Regions from separate parts of the Homo sapiens genome. Here regions 1 and 2 are each linked to region 3. The links come from fine-mapping of genetic effects on gene expression. A gene starts in region 3. Each other region holds a variant in brackets. All regions are shown on one strand. Distances are from middle to middle. Region 1 overlaps ABCC2 (ATP binding cassette subfamily C member 2). Region 2 overlaps COX15 (cytochrome c oxidase assembly factor COX15). Region 3 holds the start of ABCC2 (ATP binding cassette subfamily C member 2).

Region 1 (2,768 bases), 39 kb before region 3:
CAGAGTTGGTTGCAGTCATTACAGTGTTACAAGATTTTGACCAACCTATCAATATTATATCAGATTCTGCATATGTAGTACAGGCTACAAGGGATGTTGAGACAGCTCTAATTAAATATAGCATGGATGATCAGTTAAACCAGCTATTCAATTTATTACAATAAACTGTAAGAAAAAGAAATTTCCCATTTTATATTACTCATATTCGAGCACACAGTAATTTACCAGGGCCTTTGACTAAAGCAAATGAACAAGCTGACTTACTGGTATCATCTGCATTCATAAAAGCACAAGAACTTCATGCTTTGACTCATGTAAATGCAGCAGGATTAAAAAACAAATTTGATGTCACATGGAAACAGGCAAAAGATATCGTACAACATTGCACCCAGTGTCAAGTCTTACACCTGCCCACTCAAGAGGCAGGAGTTAATCCCAGAGGTCTGTGTCCTAATGCATTATGGCAAATGGATGTCACGCATGTACCTTCATTTGGAAAATTATCATATGTTCATGTAATAGTTGATACTTATTCACATTTCATATGGGCAACTTGCCAAACAGGAGAAAGTACTTCCCATGTTAAAAAAACATTTATTGTCTTGTTTTGCTGTAATGGGAGTTCCGGAAAAAATCAAAACTGACAATGGACCAGGATATTGTAGTAAAGCTTTCCAAAAATTCTTAAGTCAGTGGAAAATTTCACATACAACAGGAATGCCTTATAATTCCCAAGGACAGGCCATAGTTGAAAGAACTAATAGAACACTCAAAACTCAATTAGTTAAACAAAAAGAAGCAGGAGACAGTAAGGAGTGTACCACTCCTCAGATGCAACTTAATCTAGCACTCTATACTTTAAATTTTTTAAACATTTATAGAAATCAGACTACTACTTCTGCAGAACAACATCTTACTGGTAAAAAGAACAGCCCACATGAAGGAAAACTAATTTGGTGGAAAGATAATAAAAATAAGACATGGGAAATAGGGAAGGTGATAACGTGGGGGAGAGGTTTTGCTTGTGTTTCACCAGGAGAAAATCAGCTTCCTGTTTGGATACGCACTAGACATTTGAAGTTCTACAATGAACCCAT[C/T]GGAGATGCAAAGAAAAGCACCTCCGCGGAGACGGAGACACCACAGTCGAGCACCGTTGACTCACAAGATGAACAAAATGGTGACGTCAGAAGAACAGATGAAGTTGCCATCCACCAAGAAGGCAGAGCCGCCAACTTGGGCACAACTAAAGAAGCTGACGCAGTTAGCTACAAAATATCTAGAGAACACAAAGGTGACACAAACCCCAGAGAGTATGCTGCTTGCAGCCTTGATGATTGTATCAACGGTGGTAAGTCTCCCTATGCCTGCAGGAGCAGCTGCAGCTAACTATACCTACTGGGCCTATGTGCCTTTCCCGCCCTTAATTCGGGCAGTCACATGGATGGATAATCCTATAGAAGTATATGTTAATGATAGCGTATGGGTACCTGGCCCCACAGATGATCGCTGCCCTGCCAAACCTGAGGAAGAAGGGATGATGATAAATATTTCCATTGGGTATCGTTATCCTCCTATTTGCCTAGGGAGAGCACCAGGATGTTTAATGCCTGCAGTCCAAAATTGGTTGGTAGAAGTACCTACTGTCAGTCCCATCAGTAGATTCACTTATCACATGTCTGCAGGTGTACCCAACAGCTCCGAAGAGACAGCGACCATCGAGAACGGGCCATGATGACGATGGCGGTTTTGTCGAAAAGAAAAGGGGGAAATGTGGGGAAAAGCAAGAGAGATCAGATTGTCACTGTGTCTGTGTAGAAAGAAGTAGACATGGGAGACTCCATTTTGTTATGTACTAAGAAAAATTCTTCTGCCTTAAGATTCTGTGACCTTACCCCCAACCCCGTGCTCTCTGAAACATGTGCTGTGTCAAACTCAGGGTTAAATGGATTAAGGGTGGTGCAAGATGTGCTTTGTTAAACAGATGCTTGAAGGCAGCATGCTCGTTAAGAGTCATCACCACTCCCTAATCTCAAGTACCCAGGGACACAAAAACTGCGGAAGGCCGCAGGGACCTCTGCCTAGGAAAGCCAGGTATTGTCCAAGGTTTCTCCCCATGTGATAGTCTGAAATATGGCCTCGTGGGAAGGGAAAGACCTGACCGTCCCCCAGCCCGACACCCGTAAAGGGTCTGTGCTGAGGAGGATTAGTATGAGAGGAAGGCATGCCTCTTGCAGTTGAGACAAGAGGAAGGCATCTATCTCCTGCCCGTTCCTGGGCAATGGAATGTCTCGGTATAAAACCCGATTGTATGTTCCATCTACTGAGATAGGGAAAAACCGCCTTAGGGCTGGAGGTGGGACAAGCAGGCAGCAATACTGCTTTGTAAAGCATTGAGATGTTTATGTGTATGCATATCTAAAAGCACAGCACTTAATCCTTTACCTTGTCTATGATGCAAAGAACTTTGTTCACGTGTTTGTCTGCTGACCCTCTCCCCACAATTGTCTTGTGACCCTCTCCCCACAATTGTCTTGTGACCCTGACACATCCCCCTCTTCGAGAAACACCCACGAATGATCAATAAATACTAAGGGAACTCAGAGGCTGGCGGGATCCTCCATATGCTAAACGCTGGTTCCCCGGGTCCCCTTATTTCTTTCTCTATACTTTGTCTCTGTGTCTTTTTCTTTTCCAAGTCTCTCATTCCACCTTACGAGAAACACCCACAGGTGTGGAGGGGCAACCCACCCCTTCACAGGTGCTTTTTG
Region 2 (2,768 bases), 68 kb after region 3:
TGTGACTGGTACAGGAAAGTACTTCATGGTTGCTGAGTGGTTCTAGAGGAGATACATGTAAGGTGAGTTAGAAACCTGGCACTTCTATCTAATGTGATAGACTCTTTCTTCCCTGCAGGGAATCACTTCAGTCACTGCCATTACAGTGCTCTACTTCCTCTCTCGGAGAATTCCCCTTCCTAGAAGGACCAAGATGGCAGCAGTGACTCTGCTGGCTTTGGCGTATACACAGGTATAAACCACTTCTTTTTGTTCTGACAGTATCCCCAATACAAAGTTAAAAAAGGGGCCGGGCACAGTGGCTCATGGCTGTAATCCCAGCACTTTGGGAGGCCTAGGTGGGCAGATCACTTGAGCCAGGAATTCAAGACTAGCCTGGGCAACATGGCAAAACCCCATCTCTACAAAAAAAATACAAAAATTAGATGGGCATGTTGGTGTGTGCCTGTAGTCCAAACTACTTGGGAGGCTGAGATGGGAGGATCACCTGAGCCAGGGAGGTTGAGGCTGCAGTGAGTCAAGATCGCACCGCTGCACCCCAGCCTAGACAACAGAGTGAGACCCTGTCTGTTTAAAAAAAAAAAAAAAAAAAAGGAAAGGTGACAGACTAGGAGAAAATATTTTCCATATTTATAATAAATTAAAAGATTAATAACCGGAAAATAAGTAAAGGACATCAATACACAATTACCACAAAAACAATGATTAATGGCCAGTAAACATGAAAAGCTGTTCAGCTTCACTTATAATCAGAGAGGAGCAAATTTAAAAAATAAGTACCATTTTGTGCCTATCAAATTGGAAAAAAGTGAAAAAAAAGATAATCAGGTATTGCCATGGGCATAGGAAAATGGATACTTTCAAATATTCCTGGTGAGAGCATGAGTCAGTACAGTTTTTTCCAGAAGGCAATTTGGCAATATCTTTTTTTTTTTTTTTTAGAGATGGAGTCTCACTCTGTCACCCAGGCTGGCAATATCTTTTAAAAGTTAAATGGGTAATTCTTTGGCCCAGCAAATGAACTTATTAGTGTCAGTCCTAGAAACAGTCCAATGCAACAAAGACCTTTTGTATGAGAAAATTCATCATAGAATTGTGATAGTGAAAAATTGGAAACAACCTAAATAGTTAAAAAACTATGGGCCGGGCACAGTGGCTCACGCCTGTAATCCCAGCACTTTGGGAGG[C/T]CGAGGTGGGCGGATTACCTGAGGTCAGGAGTTCAAGACCAGCCTGGCCAACATGATGAAACTCTGTCTCTACTAAAAAATACAAAAATTAGCCAGGCGGGGTGGCACACGCCTGTAATCCCAGCTACTTGGGAGGCTGAGGCAGGAGAATTGCTTGAGCCCTGGAAGTGGAGGTTGCAGTGAGCCAAGATCATGCCATTGCACTCCAGCCTGGCAGACAGAGTGAAACTCTGTCTCAAAACAAAACAAAACAAAAAAAACTATGGTATATCCATACTGTGCGATACTGCACAGCAGTTTAATAAGATCTCAATACATAGTGTATATTGCTAAGTGAAAAAAAGCAAGTGACAGAACAATATGTTTTTTAAAAGCACAAAACTATATATTTATTTCTCTATAAACATACTAAAGTACAAGTATGCAGAAACTGGTAACAGTGACTACTCTGGGGAACTGGGATGGATTGAAGAATAAGGGGAATTTTAGGTTTATCAATTTTGTTCGAATTTCTTTCATTGTAAGCATATTTGCTTGTGAAATTAAAAATGTGTGTATTTTAAGTGCTCTGATAGGAGGATGTGGAGGTTTGTGTGTGGTTATCCACGCCTGGCCATTTTCAATGTGAACTTTGGGTTACTGCCTTTCCTATTGCCTTCTTTCCTTTGTGACAGGTGGGCTTGGGCATCAGCACGCTGCTGATGTATGTCCCAACTCCTCTGGCCGCCACTCACCAGTCAGGCTCCTTGGCTTTGCTCACTGGTGCTCTTTGGCTGATGAATGAACTCCGAAGAGTCCCAAAATGATTCTTAGAGGACCAGCCTCCTGGGACTGTGACTGCTTTTGAGAGCTCTTCAGAGATCATAAGAACTTGGGCTTTTCTACGAGATGACCTTGACATACCAAGTGGTTTCCAAATGGTCAACTTACTTAAAAATCTTTTCCTGTTTTGAGATAGTCACTGGATCAAGAATGCATTAAGTGTGGTTACCCTAAATGTTCCCTTTTAAATCTGCTTTTCATGTTGAAAATCAGTTTTAATGTAGAGAAAGAAATGTCTGCCATTTGCTGCTTAACAGGCTTTGTGTCAGGTTTTTCAGTGTTGGCAAGCTCTTGGTTCTACGTGGATGATTTCTACGTGGATGTTCTCCTGAGTCCTTAATTCTGCCTAAATAGAATTTCTTTATGATCTTAACTTCACTTCCATTAGGTGAAGATTGAAAGGATAGGATTGACATACCCAAAGTAGCCAGCTGGTCTTCAGCAAAAAAAAAAAAGCTAATGTCTTCTAATATCCTGATTTTCAGAAATGGGGAAATTGCAGATTTTGACAAGCTTAATGTGTATATGTAGCAAAATGGTTTTTAAGTACTTGGAAAAGGAGGTAATCGCCAAATAGTTCCATTTTTTTTTTTTTTTTTGAGACAGAGTTTCACTCTTGTTGCCCAGGCTGGAGTACAATGGCGTGATCTCAGCTCACTCTGCAACCTCCACTTCCCAGGTTCAAGCGATTCTCATGCCTCAGCCTCCCGAGTAGCTGGGACTACAGGCACAAGTCACCATGCCTGGCTAATTTTGTAT
Region 3 (2,768 bases):
CATTTGCCAAATTATAGGATGAAGAAGGACTGTTCCCCAGTTTAAAGGACAGAATAGTTCCCTGGGATATAAAAAATTATTCAAGTTTCTAGCACTAACTGAACTCACTGGCAGATATTCAAACATGCAGGCGCCATGCAGGGAGAATGCTTAGTCATACTGTAACATTTGCTCTCTGATGGCCCAAAGCGCTTACATTAAAAACCTGGCCAGTTTCAGCACAGCAGTGACAACAGCATTGTTGGACAGAAGGCTTCCAACCAGCAAGTTTTGTGCAGTCTTTGCATTCTGCGATAAATGGAAGTGTCTTGTGAAGTGGAAGTTGGGGGGTGGGGGGTGGGCACCAATTCTTGTATCTGAGTCACATGAGTGTGGATTTTTCTTTTCCTATAAATAGTTAAAAATTGTTTTATATGATTATTTATACAGACTCTTTAAAGAATTGCTTGCGATGCCCTGACCAAGAAAGTTTGTCAGGTAGTTCTCAGAAAGAATTCTCAAGAGATGGCCTGTCTAGATACTATAGCCCATGAAGATCCACCTTGCCGTGGTATACACTCCTGGCCTCGAGGGTCTTGGGACCCAGGTCCTTTCTAAGACACGAGGTGCTGCCCAGGTGCTCTGCTATCTCATCCCTGCCCCTCTCACCTCTATATAAGGTTATCAAATGTTAGAATTCAGAAGAATCACTTAAGATACTTAAACTACATTTATTGCCCCAGGTGATTCTGATGCTGAGGCTAGGAGTTTGCAGATGATACTTTCTCACCAAACCCTTACTAAAATCACTAAATCTAAGGTCCTTTTTTGTTTTCTATTCCACTAGACCTTTGATACTGTTGATTGGCCCCTATCTTGAAATTTTTTGCTATCTATGACTCCGTAATGTTACACTGTTCTTGTTCACCCTCTAAGTGGTGTCTCTTCTTTTCCTTAAAAACAATATTACCCAACTCTAGTTGTTCAAAAATTATTTCAATGCTCATGATGCCCAAAGTTGCATCCCTAGACTCAACTTCTAGTCCATATCATTAGTTGCCAGTTCTAGAACTTATCATTATCATTTCAACATCAACATGTCTCAGCAAGACTCAGTCACGGATCTTCTCTTCCTTCTACTAGCAAAGTATGCAACAACAATTCTCCTTCCTCACACGGATTAAATTGGAAGGTTTTTACCTGTTTCTCTTTAGAGAAGGCAATTTTGCGACTAGCTAGTACAAGAGTCTGATATAAAAAAACATATGACAGAGAATAATTTGCATTACATTTCCCAGATCTTATATCCTCTGGAGATATTATGAATTATGCTTTCTAAAAAGCCTGAGCTTTAGACCAATTGCACATCTAACATTTCTGGTTCTTGTTGGTGACCACCCTAAGTTAACTAACTACCACTTGTTCTGAGTCTGAGAAGAGTCAATATGAAGATAAATGTAATTTCTCACCCAAAAAGTAGAGTTGCAGAACTTCTCCAGCATGATTCCTGGACTGCGTCTGGAACGAAGACTCTTCTATTAATATGATTGTGTTGTTTCTTCTTTACTTGTTTCATCAAAGAAAGTGGAACAGGAATTATCTACCATTCTGATGTTCTCCGTAAAGGATGACCTTTCATCCCAACCATTTAATCGTTAACCTTGCCTAGATGCATGTTACATTGAAACAGTGGATGGACATGTGACTAAAAAGCCCTAGGGACAGGGAGACTCACCAGTTCCCAAAGTACAAGAGGCCTCTGTAGGAGTGGCCATACATAAAAGGAACCACTGAAAGATGTCAACAGAGCTGGCCAACAAATCAAGAGTGCACAGTCTTTCATTTTCCTAAGGACATATGACCCACAAAGGGCAGCATCAGTAGAGGGGCAGGCACCCCTAAATGTGCAGTTTCGCTTCTGCTGCAAGATCTTAGAGTTTATAGAAATGTGAAATATCCTTCTTCCTTAGATTTTTAATTAAAAATATAGAATCTAAAACATGGTTTAAACATGATGTAAACTTTCTTTGAAGAAGTCAGGTTATAAAATAGCTTATCCAGTGTGAGCCTATATGTTATATACATAATACAGGCTTTCAAAAGTTCTATTTGCCTGAGAGGTAGTATGCCAAATGGGAATGAAGCCTTTGCCAGGCATTGTAAATATGATATCATGATAAAACATCAGGGCCAGAGGAGAGGGGTGATTCTGTAAACAGAGTGGTGGCATCAGTCGCTAGAAACTGTCATCGACCCAACCTTTTCTTTTTTTGTTATTGTTTTTTGTTTTTTGAGACAGGGTCTTGGTCTGTTGCCTGAGCTAGAGTGCAGTGTTGCCATCATGATTCATTGCAGCCTTGACCTCATGGGTTCAAGCGATCTTCCTGCCTCAGCTTCCTGAGTAGCTGGGACTACAGGCACATGCCAACAAGCCCAGCTAATTAAAAAAATGTTTTCTGTAGGGACGGGGTCTCACTATGTTGCCCAGGCTGGTCTCAAACTCCAGGCTTCAACAATCCTTCTGCCTTGGCCTCCCAAAGGGCTGGGATTGCAGGCATGAGCTACCGTGCCCCACCTGACCCAACCTTTTGTACTGTCACTTAAATTGCTTTAAGAACATGCTTTTTTCATGATATCATGAACCACCCATGCGGTATCCTAGCTAAAACATAACCACCCATGCAGTATCCTAGCTAAAAAAAATTGGCCTTAAATCTGGTCAAATTCTAGATCTAACTACCGGATTATAAGAAACACAGGAACATGCTAAAGGACTCCATTGGAATGCA

What was found. PIP is the estimated chance that this variant, and not a neighbour inherited with it, causes the effect. A credible set is the group of variants that fine-mapping cannot tell apart.
Region 1: its variant is the best candidate, but not a certain one, in a credible set for the expression of ABCC2 in whole blood (TOPMed, PIP 0.70).
Region 2: its variant is the best candidate, but not a certain one, in a credible set for the expression of ABCC2 in whole blood (TOPMed, PIP 0.53).

Annotation. Positions count from the first base shown.
Region 1 is chr10:99,820,799-99,823,566 of GRCh38, reverse strand. All of the region lies in intron 19 of ABCC2 (ATP binding cassette subfamily C member 2), which reads right to left. Among named protein-coding and RNA genes, the nearest start is that of ABCC2, 40 kb to the right of the region's middle. The variant C/T (reference allele first, on the strand shown) is at 1,098.
Region 2 is chr10:99,713,812-99,716,579 of GRCh38, reverse strand. It overlaps COX15 (cytochrome c oxidase assembly factor COX15), which reads left to right. Exons shown (of 9, transcript NM_078470.6): 8 at 119-232; 9 at 1,862-2,768. The coding sequence ends at 1,993. Among named protein-coding and RNA genes, the nearest start is that of COX15, 17 kb to the left of the region's middle. The variant C/T (reference allele first, on the strand shown) is at 1,188.
Region 3 is chr10:99,781,558-99,784,325 of GRCh38, reverse strand. ABCC2 (ATP binding cassette subfamily C member 2) reads right to left here and starts at 1,686. Exons shown (of 32, transcript NM_000392.5): 1 at 1,449-1,686. The coding sequence starts at 1,481. RefSeq lists an enhancer at 1-488.